Regions from separate parts of the Homo sapiens genome. Here all the other regions are linked to region 1. The links come from fine-mapping of genetic effects on gene expression. A gene starts in region 1. Each other region holds a variant in brackets. All regions are shown on one strand. Distances are between the middles of the regions. Region 1 holds the start of RAB6B (RAB6B, member RAS oncogene family). Region 2 overlaps RAB6B (RAB6B, member RAS oncogene family). Region 3 overlaps RAB6B (RAB6B, member RAS oncogene family). Region 4 overlaps RAB6B (RAB6B, member RAS oncogene family).

Region 1 (5,463 bases):
ATTTCTGTGATTTTGGGAGCAAAGGGGGTCTGTGGAGCCCAGCAGGGGCCTCCGTTCATCAGGGATTCTGAAGGAGCCCAGATGTTCCCTCAAACTCACCAGAGACACTTTCTTCACCAAACTCCTAGTCCTTTCTGAAGCTTGTGCAGACTTAGAACAAATGTTTGCTGAGAACCTACCAGGGGCCAGGCACTTTGAGAGGCACTAAAGAAACATGAAGAAGTAAGAGAATTGTCTTCAAGCAACCATTTTTCAGAGACAGAAAGTGAGTCACAGAGAGGCCTCAAATTTTACTAAAGACAACACAGCTAAGAATTCAACCCCCAGGCTGCCTGATCCCTGCAGGTTATCTCCCAGGGCTCCAGGCCGGGTGAGACTAGCACTGGGATGTGAATACCACCAAAATCCCTTCCAGACACAGGGTATGGTCAGCTCTATGAAACTGGGATCTATTAAAAACAGGCAATCAGAATCCAGGGCAAACGCTGGCTGGCTGAGTGGATCTTCTTCTGAAATGCCCAGCCTGTCCCCCAAACCCATCTCCATACTGGGCCTGGACACTACCTTCTAACGTCCTTCTCTGAACCATCCATCTTAGGCAATGAGTATCAGCAGACAAGAGCCAGCCACGTGACCTCCATAACCCTCATGTACACACAGCACAGTAGCACTGTTCCTGGGCCCACCCAGTCCTCCCACAGCTGCCTTTCTTTTGGGCCCCCTTGTCAGAGAGGCACCAACCCAGGTGAACAGGACTGGTCTGCAGAGGCAGAGCTGGGGTCCTGTCCCGCAAGGACAGCCTTCTCCCAGAGCAGAGCTGACCAGAGCTCAGTTTGTCTCCCTGCAGCCCCATGCGAGAGGCCTCTGGAGGGATGCTCTGAAAGCCACTCCTTCCTACAGGTGGCAGAGGGGTCCCTGCCCTTCAATCTGGGCTTCCCGCCTCTAGGGACTAACCTGGTTTTCAGAGATGTTTTCCTGGGGAGGGAGCCGGGCAGCGGAGAAGCAGTCTCCCCCTCCCCCAGCTCTGGCCGACTGCCAGGGTGACCTCCCCTCCCCCAAGAAGGGCGGTGAGCTGGGAGGTGGGGGTGGGAAGAATCCACCGATGCTCTCTGGAGGAGTGCTGGGAAGCTAGGCAGGGCGTGTCGCCTGGGCCTTTCTCTGCCCAGAGCCAGACTTCACAGCCTCTCGGTGTGAGGTGCCCCTGTATCATTCCCCAAATCGCCTCGAGTTGGGGTAGCCCTCACTGCAATTGCCCAGATCCCTGGGCAGCAAGGAGACTAACAAGCGCCGGCGAAGGGCAGCGGGTCTAGAACCTTCTGTGCCCAGTCGGACGTGAGCCAGGGGAGGTAGGCTCCCCGTTCCCCCATGGCCTGCACTCGCTCTTTCGAGCAGAGACAGGTGTCGCTCTTTTCTCCCCGGTGGCTGTTTGTCCCACGCCCTGGACGTGCCCTTTCGCATGGTTCCCAGCAGGGTCCGCAGGGAACACCCCTCCAGTGCAGCGGAGTGAGGCCCGGCCAGACCCCAGCTTCGCTTCGTTCTCCAAGGGGGGCGCCCGTCGCTCTCCCCACCCCCGCCAGCACCCAGCCACCTGCGCGGTCGCCCGCAGCCGGTGCCGCAGTGTGAGCTAGCCAGCGAGCCCGGTTCCTTCACGCCCTGGCCAGCGCCGCGGAGCCAGCCGCCGCCCTCCGGGCCCCCTGCAGCGCCGCACCTGCACCCACACCCCGGGCCCCCCACCCAGAGCCCACCCTCACCTCCACCCCAGGCTCCAGCGCCTCCTCCGTCCTCACCCTTGGCCCCTCCCCAGCCCGACCCCGCCCCGACCTCCCCATCCCTGTCCCTCTCCTCTACCCTGGCAAGGAGGGGCCTTTCCGAGCCTGGGCCGGGGGTCCCAATGGGGTGGGCGATTGGGCGGCGGGGGTCGACTCGGCGACAAGCCAAGAGATTAAGCCGGGTACTTACCGCTCTGCTCCCCCAAGAACACCAACTTGAATTTTCTCAGTGGATTCCCAAAATCTCCCCCTGCGGACATGGTGCTGGCAGCCGGGGCCGGGAGAGGAGGAGGAGGAAAAAGCGAAGGAGCAGGGAGGGGAGAGTAGGAGGGCGAGGGGAGGCGGCCGGCGGTGCGGGAGCCGGAGGGGGAAGGGCTGGCTGCGCGCGTCCCTGACTCCCCAGCTGCGTCCCGGTCCCGGCCTGCGGCTGCGTGTCCGGCGGCGGAGGAGGAGGAGGAGAGAGAGGCGGAGGCGGAGGAAGGCTGGGGCTGGGCTGCTGCGGTCGGCACTGGCTGCGGTGCGAGGGGCGCGCTCTTTACGCCCGAGGCGCGGCGCTGGGAGAGAGGCGCGGGCGGAGCGGGGCGCAGGGACGGCGCGCGGGGCGGAGGAGCGCTCTCCAGAGCCGCGCCAGTCGGCCCCCTCCCGCCTGCCTCCTCCGCCGGCGCCTGCGCTCTGTGCGCTCCCCAGCCTCTGATGTCATGCGGGGCCCGCGGGGCTGCGGGGCTGGGGGGCGTGCGCCCGCCCACCCGAGCCCGCACCCGGGCAGGAGAGAACCTCCTCGCCGTACCCCTGAGAGCCCCCCGGGGGGGACCGTGTCTCGCTGCCCCGCTGCGTCTGTCTTCCCCACTCTACCCCTCTTTTGAATCCAGAAAATGACAGAAATTGTCAGGGGACATTTGTTTCTGGTCTTTTAAACCTAGATGCCAGTCCCTTCCTCCACCTCGCGAGACACCGATGCACAGCGCAGTCGTCCGACCGACAGGGCGGAAAGGAACGAAGGTGGGGGAGAGCCAGGGTGTGGCGAGGCCCGTCAGGGCGGTCAGACCTAGGGAAACCTGGCGTACTTGGCGCAGATGGGGCTCGACTCTTGCCCCCCGTGGCTTCTAGCCCGCCCTTCCCTCTCGAGGCCTAGACCCTTTATTTGGGCGGCCTCTTGTGGAGTCTGTGGGTGCCCCCGCAGACCTGGCCAGCGAGAGAGGAGCTGCCAATATCAGGCGCGCCTACCTCAAACCAGCTGCTCATTTGGATCATTTTATGCCAAATCCTAACCTGCCCCATGGGAGAGAAGGAACGGTGACGCTCTGAATGCCAGTGCCACTATCTCCAGGACAGTGCCCTGCGTTTCTTGATCCCGGGGTCGCCAGGCTGACAATGCCACTCCCCACCCTGGCAATTAGGTGTATCTGGACAATGAGCTATCTGAGGACATGTGGGCGACCTCTCCTTGGCCTCTACTTGCCTGGTCCATCGAGGCACACAGACCAAGTTGTGAGTGAGTGAGAGCAAAGAGCAGACGCCAAGTGCTAGAAACACTCCCAAGACAGCCCGAGCCTAAGGCATGCTGGTTAATTGAGGTTTTACAAAGCTGTCCCTTACTGTTCTGCCACAGCGTGGTCTTGTTCATTTATGGCTGTTCAGTGAGCATTTATTTGAGATAATAATCTGCATGTCGGTGAACACGATGGTGTGTGCACGCATGTGTTATAGAAAGAGAAAGAGGAGTGAGACACAACCTTCACCTCCAGATTTCTCGTGGACACTTGTTACCCCCTTTTTGACTTATGGGGCTTGCTTGGGCAAGCCTATCTGTCTCCCTGGTGTGCTCACCTCGAATCTCTTTCCTATTTCTTGTTAGAAACCTGACCACAAGTTCCATAAAAGCAGTAGTTGAAGCTCCACCACTGCATCCCAAGGACATAGCTCAGAGTTTAAGAAATAGTTGTTGAATGTTTGAATGAACATCTAGAACTCAAATCAAAATAACTGTCCTATTCTCATAATTACCTTTAGTTTGGAACCCCAGGGATTGTAAGTCATCACCTAGAATATCTGCCCCGTTGTGGCTGGCACCAGGCTCAGGGTAACCCTCCAGACACCCACCCACTTCTCTGGGGCTCCTGCTCTCTTAGGAGACCATATCCAGCTTGGGGTTGAAGAAAGCTCTGAAAGGAGAGGAGACTCCCAAGTCACAGCCCTTCCCGTCTCTATAAGTGATCCCTCCAAAGAAGGGCCAGTGAGCTACTGGCCAAGGTACCCAGCCATGCAACACTCCTCCAACCTGCACCTTCTCCTAACATCTAGTGCTGTCTCCCTGTACCCTCTCATCCTGACCTGATGAGATCATCGGTGGCAAGACAAAACAGCTGAGGTGTGCCAGAAAAGGCACCATCTTTTGGGTAAGCCTAGGCAGGTCCTGTACCTCCTCTGATCATCTGGTCCCGCACATGTAAGGTGGTATGGCAGTAGGGGAGGGAGGGCTGGGGCAGGGCCCCTCTGGGCACCTCTAAGCCTCCAAGTCATCCCATATGCTTACCAGGTCCAGCTGGGCTGACTATGGTCCAGCTTACTTTGGGGGACTCTGTCATAATTCTTCCAGTTCAAATGACAAAAACCCGGCTCCGACTACCGGGCTCACGTCGCTGGAGCAGATACTGGCATTGCTCTCAGAATGCAGTCATCATGCTGTGGAAATGAGAGCCTTAGAGACTCCAAGTTTGCTCTGCTCCAAGTCTCTCTCCTCCAACTATCATTGCTTATCTCCCCTGATTTTGAGTCTTGTCCTTAACCTGCCCTAAAGCAGACAGACTTTCTCCAGGTGGAAAATGGGGCCACTGAACCTCAGCCTGGCAACCTCACTAGAAAGAGTTTCTTCCATATCATAGAATCTGTGCATTCCATTTAAAAAAATTCTTTAAATCTTCCTATTTAGTATGTGCTGTGTATATGTAAGTTACAAAGAAAACCTATCACTCTGAGTGCCCATTTACCCTCTACACAGCTGGAGGGCTCAAATATTATAGTACTTTTCAGGCCCCCAGGTGCTTTCTTCTCCTTCCTCCCTCCCCAACTTGGAAATCCAGAATCTTAGCTTTTCTTTGAGTTTTATCACATTGGATGTGTCCTTCACAATACTTTGTTTTGTTTTGCATCTTTTGAATCTTATATAAGGTATCAAACTGTGTTTTCTGTCCTGACTTGCATGTTTCTTAACATCATGTTTCTGAGATCCATTTGTTAATTCATGTAGCAGCAGTTCTTTCATTTTCACTGCTGGTTAGTATTCTAGTTATGCCCCAATTTTTAAATGATTTTCTGTAAAATGTGTCATTTAAAATTTTTATTTTATTTTATTTTATTATTGTTGTTATTATTTTTGAGATGGAGTCTTGGTCTGTCACCAGGCTGGAGTGTAGCGGCGCCATCTCGGCTCACTGTAACCTCCGCCTCCCAGGTTCAAGCAATTCACCTGCCTCAGCCTCCCGAGTAGCTGGTACTACAGCCACGCACCACCAGGTCTAGCTAATTTTTTTATTTTTAGTAGAGCCGAGGTTTCACCATGTTGACCAGAATGGTCTCAATCTCTTAACCTCGTGATCCGCCTGCATCAGCCTCCCAAAGTGCTGGGATTACAGGTGTGAGCCACCACGCCTGGCCTTTTTTAAAATTATTTTAAATAATTTTATACTCACATAGA
Region 2 (5,463 bases), 30 kb before region 1:
GGCCCCTCTCCCAGAGCCTCTGTCAATTCCTATGGTCAGTTTCACCAAGTCCACTGGCTAGCCAGTATTTCAGACCATAGCAGAGTAGAAGCAGAGGTAAAGTAAAAATTGAGACCACAGCAAAGAAAGAGTAAAAATGAGAGAGAGGCAGACAGAGGGGCTGTATTTAAGGCAAGGAGGATAATTGGTCCAGAGGGAGACAGACAGACTAAAAAGTAGATACAGAGCTGCAGTCTGCAGTGAGCTGTGCTCCACATACTCTGTAAATCCAGAAAGGAGGAGGGACGTCTTAGAACAGCAGTCCCCGCTGTGTTCTATAAATATTTGTCCTTTGAGAACTCGATAACCAAGGGATTCCATGATCAAATACATCTGAGAGATCCTACACACTATATCCCTCTTTCAGTAAATCAAAACTATACACTGATATAGTCAGGCTCCGAGAAGCCCTGCAGCACAGCAGTAGATTTACTTTTGTTCACCCAGTGTTCCCTAAATCTGTACAAGCTCTGAACCCACCACCCCCTACCTCAACTTTTTTTCAAGTAACACCTACCAACACCTCTTGGAATTAGTATCTCACAGAATCCACTAGTGTAGAAAAATGCATTATCATTTGTCTCTATCTAAGGAATAAAACAGCACCTTTTTTCTTTAAAAGAGTTGAAATGATTAAGTTTGGTGCCTTTTGCAAAAAGCTATAATTGCATGGAAAATTCACTTTACTTGCACAAACCTCCCTACTCACCAGTGGTGCCAGGAAAGTGACATGTTATTAACCCCCAAGAACTTGGCCTTCAGGGCACCTGGAACCACCTCTGGGCCTCTGGTTGACCCCAGACTACGCCTCCAGGGCCAGGAGCTGCAGAGGTCACCGCATCCAGCCTCCTGCCCATGTAGGGCAGGGCAAGCTCATCGCACCAGCCTCTCCAGGGAAGGAAGTGCCTCAGCAACCGTGTGTGTGTGTGTGCGCGCGTGTGTGTGTTTGTGTGCGTGTGTGGGGGGGGGCGGGGGTGAGAGAGAGAGAAGGTCCCAGCAAACATAACCATTACAACCATGCATGAGGCGCAAGTTCGCCTAACACTCTCATTTTCATCTTGTTCCTCTTCCACATGATGACTCCCCTGAACAACCAAACACTATCATGGTTTGGATCTGCCTGTGAGGAACAAGAGAACACAGACTCTCTCTATTTTTAGAATTTTCCTCTGAAAAATGTTCCCTTTACCGAGGGGTGGATTTTCAGAAGGGCTCAAGCTCTTTACAGGGATGGGGCCAGTATAGAGGTGGGAAGCTCCTCCATAGCAAAATGACAGCCTGGGAACCCAGGGCCATTCCACTCCCACCCCAGCTCAGCAAGTTTCAAAGAGAGGTCAGCCACTGCCAGATGATATGGAGGGTGAGCACCCAGGACCTCACCTGGTATGTGTTGTCGAAGCTGTCGTACATGAACCTCGTAATCAGAGACGTCTTCCCGACTGCAAAACAACAAGGAGAGAGGTGTTCAGTCATGGCATCTGAGCTAGGCTCTTCTAAACACACTGCATTTGAAGAAAAGATAACAAAACCAAAAAGCACAGGGGAAAGGCCGAGTTGCAGAAATACAGAAGTGGGAGACAGGCCCCTGCTAGGGACCCCGTGGTGAGGCCACCGAGTCTCTATACCAGGTGGGCTGAGGGCTGTTCCTGCCAGGCACCAGGGTGCTGCCAAGGAGGAGGTATCCCACTGCCCCATGGATTTCCACTACCCAAATCCAGGTCTTCCTTGACCCAGGAGAACCCAGCTGATGCAAGAACCATCTATAAAGAATCAAGGTAAGTGGGTGCAAAACAGGAGGCTCCTCTCGTACTTGCCCATGTACACCTTGTTGTTGGTCATACACTGGAATGGAAGCCTGCCCTTTATTTCCTGTTAATTCAGCCTGAAGATTGGTGGGGACAGTGGCTTTCTAAGGAACCAGGGGCGGGGAGGCAAATGTCATTTCCCCATGTCTCTCATGGACAGGACTATTCTTTGTGTATCTGACCGTCCAGCTCATTGCAGGATGTTTAG[C/T]ATACCTGGAACCCCGCTAGGTAAATGCCAGGAGGATCCCCAGTCACTGTGACAACTGTAGACTCACTCACACATCTGCAAATGCCCTGTAGGGGCAGTGACACCCCAACTGAGAACAACTGGAACAGCTGAGAGAAAACAGGACGTCTCTTGGGAATCCTACAAATGCTGCTAATTTCCCAAATTGTAGAATTTGGCTTCTGACCTCACCCTGTGCAGCTCCCCTGGGGCCTGGCAGTGACAGAAATGCCAACTGCTGCATTTCTAACCATCTGGGGTGGGGGAAGAGGGCAGTCAAGGGACATTCATTAGGACGGGCCCTGCACGGATGCCTGTCTGTACTGTCCTATCATGTCTCTGCCATGACCCTGGGAGGCTCAGTGGGGAATCTGCCCAGCTGTGCTGGCTCAGAGCCCTTTCTGCACTAGGCTTCAGGAGGACAGGTAATGCTGGCAGGCAAAACAAAAGTACCCTCACCCTCCCATTTCCCAGGCTGGCAGTACATCCACAAGCTGTGCCTGGTGGGGTGGCTGGTCACTCCCTGGAGGGAGCAGGACAAGCCAACAGGACCCCTTGGCAAAGGCCCTTTACCAGCTTTGAGGCCTCAAGAGTGCACCACATAACAGACAAGTGCACTCAGCTCCCAGCAGCCAGCATTTGCTATGGGAAAGATGATCTTCTACCCAGAAGGAGCATCTGACTGACTGTGTTTGGGCTAAATTCAGAAGACCCCATCTTTAACCCAGATTTGGTTAGCTGGATTGAAATCCTATTGGGGTACTTTTCAGCTGTGTCACCTTGAGGTTATCACCATCCCAGGACCTCAGTTCCTCATTTGAAAATGAGTATATTAACATCAAAGACTTCAGGGGGCTGTAGTAAGAATTAAATCAGGTAAAAAGTACAAGGCACATGGGAAATGCTTAAAAGTGGAAGGAGGCAGCAGGTAACTGAGCAAGGTAAGGCAGTTTCCAGAATATCAGATGGAAAAAATATATGTATCACCACCACCCCCAGCCCTCAACTCTGGGCGGCACTCAAGTCATCCCCATTTCACACAATGGGCAATTAGGTGGCAGCTCCTGGCCCAGGGTCAGAGCTGAGTGGGGCTGGGATGTGGCTGCCTGACCAGGTGCTCAGTTCCTATCCAGGTCCTCCTTGATAGGTCATGCTGGGTTCAGGATTCTGCCAGGTCAGGATTCTGCCCTTGTTGGAGAACGCTGACCACCACGCCAACTCTGGGTGGTCAGTGCCAGAAGTGAATTGTAGGGTACCAGCTGGTGTCAGAACAGCCCCATTTTTAAAACAACATTTCTGGGGTGAGCAGAAATGTGCCCAAGATCTCTTCTAATTTTACCTGGAAGCAGCCTTTTCTAAACTTCTGATAGAAACGAGGCTATAAAGAGCATTCTGACTGCTTTAAATCTCCCCTTAAATTTCACATGAAGGTGAGAAGTAGGGGGCCTCCCATACCTGGAGGATCAGCTCTGAGGCCATGAGGCCCCAGGCACCTGGCTGAGGACCACAGAGGGGAAAGTGGGGCAACCCTGAACTAGCAAGAGGCAGATGCATTGGGGAAAACACAGCATCCTCCTTTTTGAAAGGGAGTGGAAAGTTACTGCCTCCTTGGGAAGAGAGGCATCCCAGGGCACGCTGGTCACTTCCCTAGGCAGCGACGCTCTGCGTCTTGCACCTTAGGGAAAGGTGCATGCATCAGGGATCAGGGTGGGGAGATGGATGGGAAGACACTGAGTCTCTTCTCCCCAGGGCCTCCAAGCACAGAGAGGAGAGAAAGCAGGGTCCCAAAAAGCCACTAAGGGCACAGAAATTTCATGGAGTAGCTGAAAACTTGGAAATCCCTGCAACACCTTCTAATGCCAAGGTGCCTCTCCATGAGACACCAGCCACTGGCAGTGGATTAGCACTTGCTCACAGGTCTAGGGGGCAGGAAAACATCCCCTGAAAGTTTTTTACTGGGAATTGTGCAGGAGGAGCTTTTAGGTGTGGGGTCCTGGCCAGAGCTGATATTTTCTATGCATTCCCGCAGTCACCATAATAGGCAACACATGACCCCAGCATTTACAGAGCATGTTCCAGGCACATAGTAGGGGCTGAGTCAGGCACAGAATTGACATGAGAACAGTAAACAGAGGAGACGTGGCACCTGCCCACTGAAGCTTGCAGCAACACTGGGTACCATACCTCCCAGCCCTCAACTCTGGGTGGCACTAATGTCATCCACATTTCACACAACGGGCATTAAGGTGACAGCTCCTGCACCAGGGTCAGAGCTGAGTGGGGCTGGGATGTGGCTGCATGACCAGGTGCTCAGTTCTTATCCGGGTACTCCTTGATAGATCATGCTGGGTTCAGAATTCTGCCAGGTCATTATTGCCACTGCTGTGGCGCTCCAGGGAACAGCCCGTCCCAGGCCAAGTCTGGAATTGGGGGCCTTTCCCCACTTGGTAGGGGCTTGATCCAATCTGAAAGGTCAGAAACTGGTCACTGAGGTGCCCTGGAAGTGCTTTGTGGGGTACAAGGAGGGCTCAGAAAGTGAGGGTTTTAACATCTGGGGCCCAGCACCCCAACTCAGGCTTGAAATGGATGAGGGACTCATTCTTACTTTGCTGCAAAAGGCAATGACTTTACACTATTCCTCTAGGCTCATTTTTCTCATTTCTCGGAGCTGAAGCCTTCTTCCCCACCTCAGAGCCCGCTAAGACTACCCATGCCCTCGTCACTTCTGCCAGGGTAATGTGTGTTACACCCCTGCAGTGGTATCCGAGACCCTTGTCCTCCATGCTTTGTCTCTGGGGAAGTGTCTGCAGACCTGAGGCAGAGCTTATTAAAAGGAGCTCCTCTTGTCCATTTCTGCCCAGCCTCTGCCCATGGTATCACATAAAGGAGCTAGGTGGGTAAGGGGTTGTGCTGTGCTAAGCTCCTCTCCCCTCTAAATGGCAAAGACCCCTTCCTCAGCCCACACCTGCCCTCAACAACTGCCCGGGGTGGAAGGTGCTAGAACCTGCAAATGGAGAACTTGCACACTGCATCTACCTGGCTACTTTCTCAGTCCCCCAACCATAAGGGGTGGGCAGAACCCATCCCGAGCCACCTGACCAGGCACTCCCACTCAGCCTCAGAGGAGCAGTAGCATGGGGCATCCCAGCAGGCCTGCAGCCTGGCAGGTGGAAGAGCCAGGAGCTCCTCCTGTGTCCCCCTGCCTCGCAACAGCTGCCGGAGTTTCTGCGGGAGCTGTCCTCCTGCCAGCTCTGTTCTCAAGGTCACACCGCTGTGCTTCTACCGCAGCTCTCGGACACCACTGCAGCAAAGAGGAGCTTTTTCTGAGGACAAAGATTCAGCTCCACTGGCAGGTTTTATTAAAAATAAGCAGGCAAATCATTATTGAGCTTT
Region 3 (5,463 bases), 66 kb before region 1:
TCCAGAAAGCACTCAACAATATTAGCAGCTGAGGCTCTAAGAACATGGATCTTTCAAGGTGGTGGTTCTGCAGACAACACCCCCCCCCCCCCCCGCCTCCCCATCACAGAGGATCAACTCCAGGTGGTCCAGCTTCCCTGACATCCAGGAGGAAGGCTTCAGGATGGCACACTGCCCAACATCACACACTGAGTTTCTTAGACTTGGCCCAGGCATGTGTACTGACTGCTGGGTGGGCTGGTTAAAATATTTTCAGAAGTACACATGGCACCCCAGTCTATAAACCACGCACCACGCAGCTGCAATTGCCAACAGCACCTCGTCCTTCTGATGGCCTCTTGCTCTGCCAGTCCCTGAGGGCACAGAGAACACAAGGTTGCCTGTACCCTCAACCCCCTTCAAGGCTTTTCAGGGAAAGAGAAGGAGAGGTGGGAGCAGTTCCTCTGGGGGCTGCTGCCGGGCTGCCTAGAGCCCACAGACCTTGGTCTCAGCTCCACACGAGGTTGACGACCCACTCTGGCCATGGAAAGACAAGAGTCAGAGCTACCTTTTCAGAGGCTGATGTGTTCAACCAATGTTTGATTTAACTGGAGTAGGGCCTAGAGAGTGGGGCCAGATGGCCCCAGACTGAAGCCTAATTAATTTGCTCAGTTAATTGTTTTAATTTATTGGGCTGGGGATAGGAGGAAGGCAGAGGTGATGAATGGTTCAAAGAGAACAGGAAGGAGGAGGTGTGTGGAAAAGGTTCTCTATAAGTTTACAAATATACAAAAACAAAAAGCACATCTTTCAAATAAAAATGACTACATTTTTATCTGGCAAAAAATTGTATACACATGATTTAAATTTTTTTTAAATTTTAACAGTTTTTGGCAATCTTAATAAAGTACAATATATTACAACCAAACCAAAAAATAGTTGTTTAAGTAACAGCCGTTAAGAGTGATGTGATCCCTGATGCCCAGCCTCCCTCCCCATCCCACCCTACTCCTAAAGACAGAGAGAAAAGAAAAATCCTCCCATCTTGATAACTCGGTTCCCTCCCCCCTTAGGAAGCTAGCCAATAGGAAGCAACACAACAAGCAAGGAGTGTCATGGGAAGCCACAGGTCGGCTCTGCATTAGCAGGAGCAGCCGCCCTCGCTGGCCGGGGGCTCCTGGGGTTTGTCCAGCTTGATGTCGATCACTGCAGGGGGACGGGCTAAGGAAGATGACTCTCCTGGACAAGCTGCCACCCCACTTAGCCCTGTGCACTGTACCCTTTGGCTACTGCTCTGTTTCTCTGCAAACACCTAGGGACTTGGCTCTTGGTTTGGCTGGGCTAGGAAGGATGCAATACCAACTCCACCTTGCCTCCTCTTCCCTTCACCCGTCCACTTCCCCCAGCGCCTGTCCACCCAAGCAAAGCCTGTCTTGCCTGGGCCGTGGGATCACCATCTATACCAAGGCCAGGGAGTCCCTTTCCCAGAAGCCTTCCCTCGACCAGTGCTCAAATGCCAGCTCCCAGCCCTGGCCTCAGCCCAGTTACCTGTCAGCCCCACTCAAAGTGCAATGGAGATGAAGAGCCTGCTGGGTTCACATCTCAAAGCACAGGGGTATGTGGGCCTTGCCTAATTGGCAGCAGGAGCAAACCCTTCAAGCTTTAGTCAGAACACATCACTTAGATCCTGAGGATGGTTACTGTAAGAAGCCACATCCATGGGGCCTAAGCACAGCCCCCTCGCCAGCCCTTTCCACTGGTGCCCCCGGGGGCTGTGGGCTAAAGAAGCACTTATCAGAACCACCACAGGGACTGGTTCCAAATGCACAGCCAGGCTGGCCCTCTGCCTTCCTCATCGGGCTCAAAACCAACACTGTGAGATTTTAGCCTTGCATCAAACCAGACCTAATTATAGCTGAGGATCAGGCCCTTTGATACCTCACAGAATTGCTCTTCCTGGACAGGGATTGCCTTAAGACAGGGGTGTGTGGGGTGTGGTGGTATAAGAAACACTGTTTTGGAACTTCTTGCTGGCATCCTAAGGATGCTTTTGTGGCTCCTATTTGAGGACAACAGGAGAGGTTCTTTTGTTTTAAGTACTATGAAAAGCCATGCTTCTCCTGAAGTTCACATTCTCTTTCCTTGCCTTGGCTGTGAGGATGCTCAGAGCCAACTTTTTGGCCACCTCTAACAACCATGCGGCCATGGCATACATTTTGAGTATGACTTTATCTCTGACTTTTCTTTGCTTTTCCTACCTTTATTTTCCCCATGTGTGTGTGTACACACATACACATACAACTTTATC[TTGTG/T]TGTATGTATATGTATCTTATACCATGGCAGCCTATAAATGAGTAAATAGATACTAAGCCAGTGCCTTCCTTCCCACTGCCCACTGCAGCCCACCTTTTGTTCTCTCTACCCTAGTCAAGCAGCCTGCTTCTCTACTGCCCATCATTTTTGGTAAACCCACTGCCAGGAATGCCCTGCTGTTTCTCTCTGCCAGCTGCAGTTCTATGGCCCATGCCGGCAGTGCAGTCCTGTTCTGTATTGCTGGCCTGGGCACAGGCCTCCTTGAGGTCTCCTGGTCTTCTCTGAGTGCCCCTCTGAGCCCAGCCAGCTCTCTCTCAGCATGGTGGCTTCCCAAAGCCAGCTCTGGTGACAATCATGTCACACTCTGCTACAGAAACAAAGTGTCCACGGATTTCTCACTCTGGCATTTAAGGCCTCCCCATTTAGGGTCACCCCAAGCACCTGTTGACGCTAGCTTATCCCCTTCCCTCAATCACACACCAAGGCTCCACCAACCAGATTTTCCCTGCTTTAAACACGTCCTATGCTTTCCTTCTTTCCTTTGTTCATGCTGTTCTTTCCTTCTAGAAGTGATGCTCCCTCCCCCACACCCAGCCTTCCTCCCCATCTCCACCTGTAAAAATGTCCTCATTCCTTGGGCCAGGGTGCACGCATTAGTGGCCTCTCCTGCTGAGAGCTACCTCACTTCCACATTAGACCTCGTGCAGTGGGGAGTAAAAGAGCCACCTTCCAGCTGGGAAGCTGAGGTGCCCAGGTACAAACCCAAGGCTATCTTGACCCCAGCCTTCTACTTTCACTGACCTGGCTGTGCTAAGCCCCTTGTGGATGGGCTTCTCAAACTCAACACTACTGACATTTTGGGCCAGACAATTCCTTGTTATGAGGGCGTCCTGTGCACGGAGGATGTTCAGAAGCATCCCTGACCACTATCTATGAGATGCCAGTTAAACCCCATTCCCCCTCCCCCAATTTATGGTGAGCCAAAACGTCTGAAGACATTGCCAAATGTCCCCTGTGGGGAGGGGAGGGAAGGGCTATCAGTCCTGGTTGAGAACTAGTGGTCTAGCTTGAAGGTTGGCCACTGTTACAGCATTACGTTCTGCCCAGTATTGAAGTCACCTACGACCACTAAAACAATCTCATGCGCAATTTGATCACAATACTTTTGTACACTGCACAGCAATAGTTCTCAAATGGATTGCATCAAAATTTTCTGGGATGTTTGTTAAAAATACGTCTCACTGGGTCCTACCTTGGTAGATGTGGGGATGGGCCCCAGATGTGTGTTTTTAACAAGTTCTTTGGAGAGTCCCAATGCACAGACATCCGGGAAACCAATTCTACTGATACTTCTAGAACAGCACTGTCCAAAGAACTTTCTCCAGTGATGGAAATATTCTATATCTGCACTGTCCAAGATGTCACCATTAGCAACATGGGCAACTGGGCACTTGCAAGGATGCTAGTGCAAGTGAGGAAATGAACTTTTAATTCAACTGAATTTTAACTAATTTAAGTCGGAACACCCACATGTGGCTGCAGAATTGGAGAGCACAGGCCCAGCTCTTCCGCTAGGAGCCTTCCCAAAGGCTCTCATTTAATGACACCTCCTTCCTTGTTACGCCACATGCTGCTGAAATGCAGTGCTCAGGGGCTGCCCGCTGATTGAGAGGACAGGGAAGAATGACTGGACCCATGTCTAAATAATGTCCCAGAAGGGGAAACTCACGGTTTCTCACAAGCCTCAAGAGGTTAGATATGTGCCTTTCCGGCAGGCATGGCCAGAGCACACCCGCCTCTTCCCTCTGGGTCAAGTGTGGCCCATCACGGGCCACATTCAGTGCCCAATGTCCCTTCTCCCTGGTTCCTGGAAGTGATGGGTGGGCCCAGACAGCCTGTTACAAACTTACCCCCTACTGCTGGATATGCTTCCCCAATCCCAGTGCCTCTGACTCTACTGCAGCACAATCCTGTCTGTATCTGGAATGTCAAAGCACACCACAGCCCCATCAGAGAGTGCAACAGGGCTGTGGAATCCAGTCATTTGGATGTGGTTCCAGCTCTGAATTAAGGAGCTGGGAGGCCTTGAGCATGCTCTATCTGGTTTGCGGCGTCACTGTCCTCACCTGCTTAGAGCCACTTCATGAAGTGCCCACACTACTGCTCTTTCTTTGCGTAAGCCAGCCTTGTTCAGAAACAGTCTGGGGCCCATGTGATGGGCGCATACTGTATTTGGGTAGAAAGTGGGGGTTGGGGGGTTGTGTATGTAGAACCAGTAAGGGGCTTATGGCTCTACCATTTGGTGGCCCCTTGGCTCCTACTTTGTTGAGAGCAGACCAGTGGAGGGTGCTGCTGGGCAGAAGTATTGGCCAGAGCGGCCCTGAGGGGTCCTCCTGTCTCGAACGTGAAGAAGAGGTGCAGCAGCCCCCCATCTAGACCTGCAAGCAGCAGACGGAAACCTCATGCCACACATTCACCAAGTCCTGAGCTGAGCAAGTGAGGCCAGGTGTGAACAGTTTATACAGCGCCACAAAGCAGTGCTTCTGTGTGGCTGCTCTCAATGTGGAACACAATTATGAACATGACCCCAAAGCACACACCTTCAAAACACCTGGATTTGGACTGTGAGTAAGCAGAAATGCCAACACCCCATCCCGAAAGAAGCAGAATGACGGCTGCCTCTGCCTGGTCCCTCTGGGACCTCTGGTGGCCGCTCTAGCACCTGCCTCGTGAGAGGCCCAGCAAGCTGGCTCCTGGGCAGAAGTGAAAGGATGGGGGTACATCTACCCAGATGAGGGGACCCCTTAGCTAGAAAAAGGGACACAGGTCACAACACCCTGTGCAGTCTGTTTGCAACCTGCCATGTATCCTTTCTCCCAAGGGGCCCAAAGGTCAGTGGTAGCTGGATGAAACGCTAGGCATACCAGGACGATGACGAGCTCACTGTCACCCTGCACTCAGCCCAGTCTGACCTGACTGTGGGCCCAGCCTGGAGCCCTCAACAGCGCGACTCTGGGAGAATGTGAATGAAACGATCACCACTCACCCCGGCCAGTGTGCCACACCTTGGGAGCTGGTGGGATGGAGAGCGGGCAGTGCAACCCTTCCCCTTGCTGGCAGGCACAGCGGAGATCGCCTGCACCTTGTCTGCCCCTCTCCCTTGTTCCTGCT
Region 4 (5,274 bases), 56 kb before region 1:
ACTGAAATAAAACTTCATCGACATTTGTGCTTCCTTATGAAACACATTGAACAGCGAGAACTAGCAAGAGATCTAATAAGTAGTGTGATGCTGAAACACTGATAGATGTGAAGTTCAAGATACCTGCAACACTATGAGGTGATGGGAAGGCATCTGTGATTTCTATTGGTGGTAAAGCCATAGGCACTGCTAATGTGACTGAGTGTCATTGCCTACATTCATCATTGAAGGACAAATCAGACGTCCTTCAGTGCTACGGACGGGTCAGTGGTTAGTGAAGATAAAGGTGCAATGTTTTCCAGCCCTGTCTGCTGACCTGCTAAATTCCACCCATGGACTACTCAGGGGCCCTCATGCTGCAAGGCTCAGCCCTAACTCCACTGCCTCGCCCTCCTGTGAGTTCCAACCACATCATGGTAGGCTCTTTCCCCCAGGCCTGAGTTGCCCTCCACAGCCCTGAGCACTTGCTAAGCGCAAGGCATGAACCCCAAATGCTGATCAGATTGAATTTTCCTGCACCTGTCATCCAAAGTGGGGTGAGGGGCTAGGGAACCACTGCTTCCCTCAGCCTCCTGGAAGCTGGTGGCTGGACACTCTTAGGGCCTGCTACGTGGGCCGTGACTGGCAACTACTACGGTGGCTGGTGACTTATGTTCTCCAGATGCCATGCCCGGAGTGGTCCCTCCCTCTTTTGGGCTTTACCAGCTCCGGAAATTAGCTCTCCCCTCCCTGGGCGCATCTATGGGTGTTCTGGTTGGCTGCCCCAATCCCATCACCAGCCCTTCAGGGCAAGGCAGCTCTGAGCCTGCAGCTGACCACAGGGCTACACCGTGCCGGGCCCCGTGCCGGGCCCCGTGCCAGGTGTGTCCTCACCTGCTTCACGTTGTAGCCAGTCTTCGCACTGGTCTCAATGAACATGACGCTCAGTTCTTTGGCGCGCTGCTCCCCCTCCTCGATGGTTATCTGCCTAGAGATGAGGGGAAGGGGGGAAATCAGCTCAGCAGAGAAGCAGACCCTGGCAGATATGAGGAGGGACCCACCCAGCAGGGCAGAGGGAGCCCACTGGGCCCTTGGTCAGTCCTGAAGACAGGCTCTGATCCCAAGGGTCCCTCCCGGGCACCAACCACAGTCTCGCTAGCACAAAGCAGGCACCAGGGAACAGTAGGACACTATCCGCTTCCCCCACTCCTTCCTTTGTGTCTTCTCAGCTTCAAAGCAGGCCCTGGGGTAGGGCTGCCCCATACCTGCCTTTCCCAGTAGTCACTACTGCAGAGCCTGTGCTTATGAAGAGATTCAAGCCAGGCAGTGCCACTCTGGGTGGTATTATCAGTCGCATTTTCCCTGTGAGAACACTAATGCTAAAAGTGTCTCCCCCAGGGCCACAAAGCTACTTAGCAGAGAGGGCTCCATGATGGGGCAGGCAGAAGTGGGTGAGGGTATGAAGGGCCTGGGTACCCTTTGTACTGGGATTTGAGCCCAGTTTTCCTTACTTTAAGGACAGAACTCTAGTAAAGCAGGCTCTAATTCAGATGATTCCTCAGGTGGTCAAGGGACGCTGCAGGAAGCCCACACTGCTTGCTGGAGTCCATGGCCTGTCACTTTATCTGCCCAAGTCAGGGTCATGTAAAATGAGTGGACAATGTACACACATGGCACCTCAGTTCTCCCTGTGCATGGAGGGCAGCATGGAGGAGCCTCTTCAGAGAAAGCTTCATGCCAGACGCAGCCACAAACCAGGCTAAGCAGGCTACGGCCATAGGTTTGTGGTCTGAATGCTCTGCATGCTCACACCTAGGGCCCAGGGCATTCACAGCCCCACGCACATTGGTGCAGACACTTCACAGGCACAGACAGTTCACAGTGCACACGCTGGGGCCTAGAGGACTGCTGTGTCTGGGGCAGGGCTGTGGCCATGGCAGGGCCTTAGACCATGCACTGCTGGGTCAAGCCAGGTGCACAGTGCTCTGTGTAGACAGCAAACGGAGAAGTGCCCCGCCCCTGCCTGGTGGTGGAAGACAGGGCTTCACAGATGAGATACCCATGGATGAGAGTCTACCAGGTGTCCTCAAAGCTCCTAGTGTCTCAAGGGACCTTTTCCGGATGCATGGTCAGAAGCACAGACACACCACCCATGCATCCCAGAGCTCCCTGTCCAGGAGCAGTTACAGAGGAGTGGAGGGTGGCACCCTGCACCTGTGTGCCCTTGCACCTACCTCTTATCAGCCAGGTCCGTCTTGTTGCCCACCAGCATGATGATAACATCACTGCCCCTCTCTGTCCTGACGTCGTCGATCCACTTAGAGGTCTGTTGGAAGGAGTTGAGATCTGGAGGCAGAAAGTGAGGATAAACTGAAAGCCAGGGCCAGCCACCAGTGGGAGATGGGAAGGGGAGGTGTGAGCCAGGAGCAGGAGGGAGGGTGAGCATGTGCCCTCAGATACCCAGGGAGGGGTGTGAGCTCAGTCAACACAGATCAGCTGGGTAGGGCCTTTCAGAGGGAACCGGGCCCTGCCCTGCGGCCCTGGGGAGCCACTTGCACTGTTCAGCCACCCTTTGTGGGAGAGGAATCACCCCATCTGGAAGATCACAGTGTCATGATTTGCCACATGGAATAGTGGCTTTAGGGGCCCACCTGAGAGACCTGACTCTGGGGATTCAGAGTGGAGAGTGAGAACTGGGTCACACGTGTGTGTGCA[T/TAC]ACACACACACACACACACATGCGCGCGCGACTTGGCAAGTTTGGGAACAGTGAGGGTGGGCAGAGGAGGACACAGCAGCCTCTAGGGAAGGAAGGGCCCTACTGAGTGGTGTCCCCACCATGGGAGCTCAGGAGAGTTTGGGGAAGGCCAGAGGGGTTTCTGAAGAGAACCCTCAGGCTCTGCAGATGAGAGGAGGGGAAAGGTGGCCCCGGGACTAGTCAGGGGAGCCAGGTGCACTCAAAAATCCAGGAGAGACAAGGCCACTTCTGGGCAGCCTGACCCCCCTCAGCTGCCATGATAGGCCTTGCAGGGCAGAGCAGCTATAAGGCAATACCCACCACTCGGCAGCCTGCACACCCAAGGGGAGGGGAGGTAGCTGTCCTCAGAAGCCTCAGTTTCACACAGCCTGGTATCCCTTCTGATGTGCCTCAGGCCATGTGAACCCAGGCCCTTGCGGGCCCAGCTCCCACCTGCACTCAGGTGTGGAGGGGGCCTGTGGTCAGAAGAGAGGTGGACAGAAGGGGTGGGCAGAGCCAGGGCAGCAGGCTGGGTGGCGGGGGCATGCACCAGCGCGGGGACATGCATGCTTCCTTGTGTGATTTTTAAGGCTGTGGACAGCACCTAGGGCATTCGCCCACTTCAGGGTAACCACAGCCCTGAGGGCTTATCAGGTGTGTTCCATTACAAGAGCCTTGCAGGTCTGGCCTCTGCCTCGGCCCCCCACCCCCACCTCTGGCCCTGTGCGCCCTTGAGGCTGTGCAGTCCTGTTAAGAACACCTGCCCTGGCCTGAAGAGCCACAGTACTGGAGAAGGGTTACCAGCCTACTGCGCTTCCAGACCCCCTTGCCTACCTTCCCAGGGAGTCCTGCACCCACAGCTGCTGGGCCGGGGTTGGCCTAGGGACCAGCGTCTTCTCCCATGGTGACACACATATAGAAGTAGCTCCTTAGGGAGCTTTCTGACAGCCAGGGAGAGGGAGGGTGCAGAGAGGCTGGAGCAGGGCCAACCTTGTGAGCATCTGCTCACACCACAAGCTGGCCTCCACTCCGAGCAGGACCAACCTGGCCCTATAAACCCCTGTCGGTTGCAGGAGGGTGGGGAGCAGTGGAAACCATGTTGGTGTTCAAAGGCAACTCACCACTGCTCCCTGCCTTTCTGCATTCAGGGAGCAATCGCACACACATGCGTGTGCACACACATGCGTGTGCACACACATGCACACAGGCCTGGCCAGGGTCACACCTGGGCCCTGGACCCCCTATGAGCCACCCTCCCTTAGGAGCAGAGCCTCACTCACTTGTGATGTCGTACACCACCACAGCCACCGTGGAGTCCCGGATGTAGCTGGGGATCAGGCTGCGGAACCTCTCCTGACCAGCTGTGTCCCAGAGCTGCAGTCGCACCTGTCTCAGGGAGGGCAGGACCATGGGCAGAGGGGTCAGTGGGGCAGTGAGGTCCTCCTGGTCCGGGGGACTGGGAGAGCCGGGCTCTGCAATGCTGGCATCACCAGCTCCAGCCCCTAGTGTCGGCAGGTGCTCTCAGTGGTGCCCAGCTAAGGGTCCTAGGGGATAAGCCCAAAGGAACCCTCCCTGCCCCTCCCAGTCCTGATATTAGGTGCTCACCGTGCGGTCCTCCAAGTACATGGTTTTTGACAAGAAGTCAATCCCAATGGTTGCCTGTTAGAGAAAAGCACAGAACGGTCAAAATCAAAAGGTCTCATGCAAAGGGGCAAAAGCCTAGCGACCACAGGTGGTGGCATAACCAGCAAGAGGGGACGCTCATGTCAGGTCTAATGTGGCCATGCTCTGTCCTCCCTGCCCCTCCCTGCTACCACTCAGCGGCTCTCTCACTGAGGGATCAAGCTGAGGAAAGATGAGGGTGGCCTTTATAGGGTGAGATCTTCTCTGGAGAGGGCAAGTGCTTCAGAAGCAGTGAGAGCGCAGTGGTGAGGAGGCCTCCCCAGGAGCAAGGCCACTCAGGCCACTCAACGCACATATCCTGCCCTCCCCACCTGGACTCCCTGCCTTGTTCCCTTCATGGCCTAACCTGCAGCTTCCAAAGCCTCTTCCCTCTGCCCTAAAGCATGGGCCTGGGCTCAACACTGACCTCGGGAGGGTGGGAGGCAGGGGGCAGGAGCAGGCAGCTTGCTGCTGTGTGGGTGCAAACAGCAGCATGGCTTTTCTCAGGTGCGGGCACTGCAGACCACCCAGAGTGGCCTCTCGCTGGGAGGCCCCACTGGCTCTTTTCTCCCCAAGCCAAAACATTGGAAGCTGTCACCAGCTCCCCTGTGCCACACCTATGCCTCTTCTGCCCTGGCACCTGTGAGAGGCAGCCAGCCTTGTGGCCAGATGGCCAGGACCCACCACTCACTTGCTGTGTGGCCTTGGGCAGGCAACCAACCTCTCTGGGCCTCACAGGCACCCGGTACCTGTCAGTAGGACTGAGATGCTGTCAATGTAAAATGGAGATATCACTGCTATGTAATCAATAATAACAAAGACTTGGACACAGCCTGAATGTCCACGGCACTAAATAAGCATAGTGTGGTATATCCATGTGATTAGAACCCTTGGCAGCTG

The links. PIP is the estimated chance that this variant, and not a neighbour inherited with it, causes the effect.
Region 2: its variant is the best candidate, but not a certain one, in a credible set for the expression of RAB6B in skin (TwinsUK, PIP 0.88).
Region 3: its variant is the best candidate, but not a certain one, in a credible set for the expression of RAB6B in fibroblasts (GTEx, PIP 0.75).
Region 4: its variant is the best candidate, but not a certain one, in a credible set for the expression of RAB6B in whole blood (INTERVAL, PIP 0.85).

The regions. Positions count from the first base shown.
Region 1 is chr3:133,893,438-133,898,900 of GRCh38, forward strand. RAB6B (RAB6B, member RAS oncogene family) reads right to left here and starts at 2,445. Exons shown (of 8, transcript NM_016577.4): 1 at 1,960-2,445. The coding sequence starts at 2,029. RefSeq lists a silencer at 2,415-2,464.
Region 2 is chr3:133,863,165-133,868,627 of GRCh38, forward strand. It overlaps RAB6B (RAB6B, member RAS oncogene family), which reads right to left. Exons shown (of 8, transcript NM_016577.4): 2 at 1,420-1,478. Among named protein-coding and RNA genes, the nearest start is that of RAB6B, 30 kb to the right of the region's middle. The variant C/T (reference allele first, on the strand shown) is at 2,053.
Region 3 is chr3:133,827,668-133,833,130 of GRCh38, forward strand. RAB6B (RAB6B, member RAS oncogene family) reads right to left here. Exons shown (of 8, transcript NM_016577.4): 8 at 1-1,185. The coding sequence ends at 1,121. It also overlaps a transcript of SRPRB not described here. Among named protein-coding and RNA genes, the nearest start is that of SRPRB, 25 kb to the left of the region's middle. The variant TTGTG/T (reference allele first, on the strand shown) is at 2,288.
Region 4 is chr3:133,837,293-133,842,566 of GRCh38, forward strand. RAB6B (RAB6B, member RAS oncogene family) reads right to left here. Exons shown (of 8, transcript NM_016577.4): 3 at 4,318-4,371; 4 at 3,993-4,098; 5 at 2,214-2,325; 6 at 874-967. Among named protein-coding and RNA genes, the nearest start is that of SRPRB, 34 kb to the left of the region's middle. RefSeq lists an enhancer at 2,580-3,080. The variant T/TAC (reference allele first, on the strand shown) is at 2,695.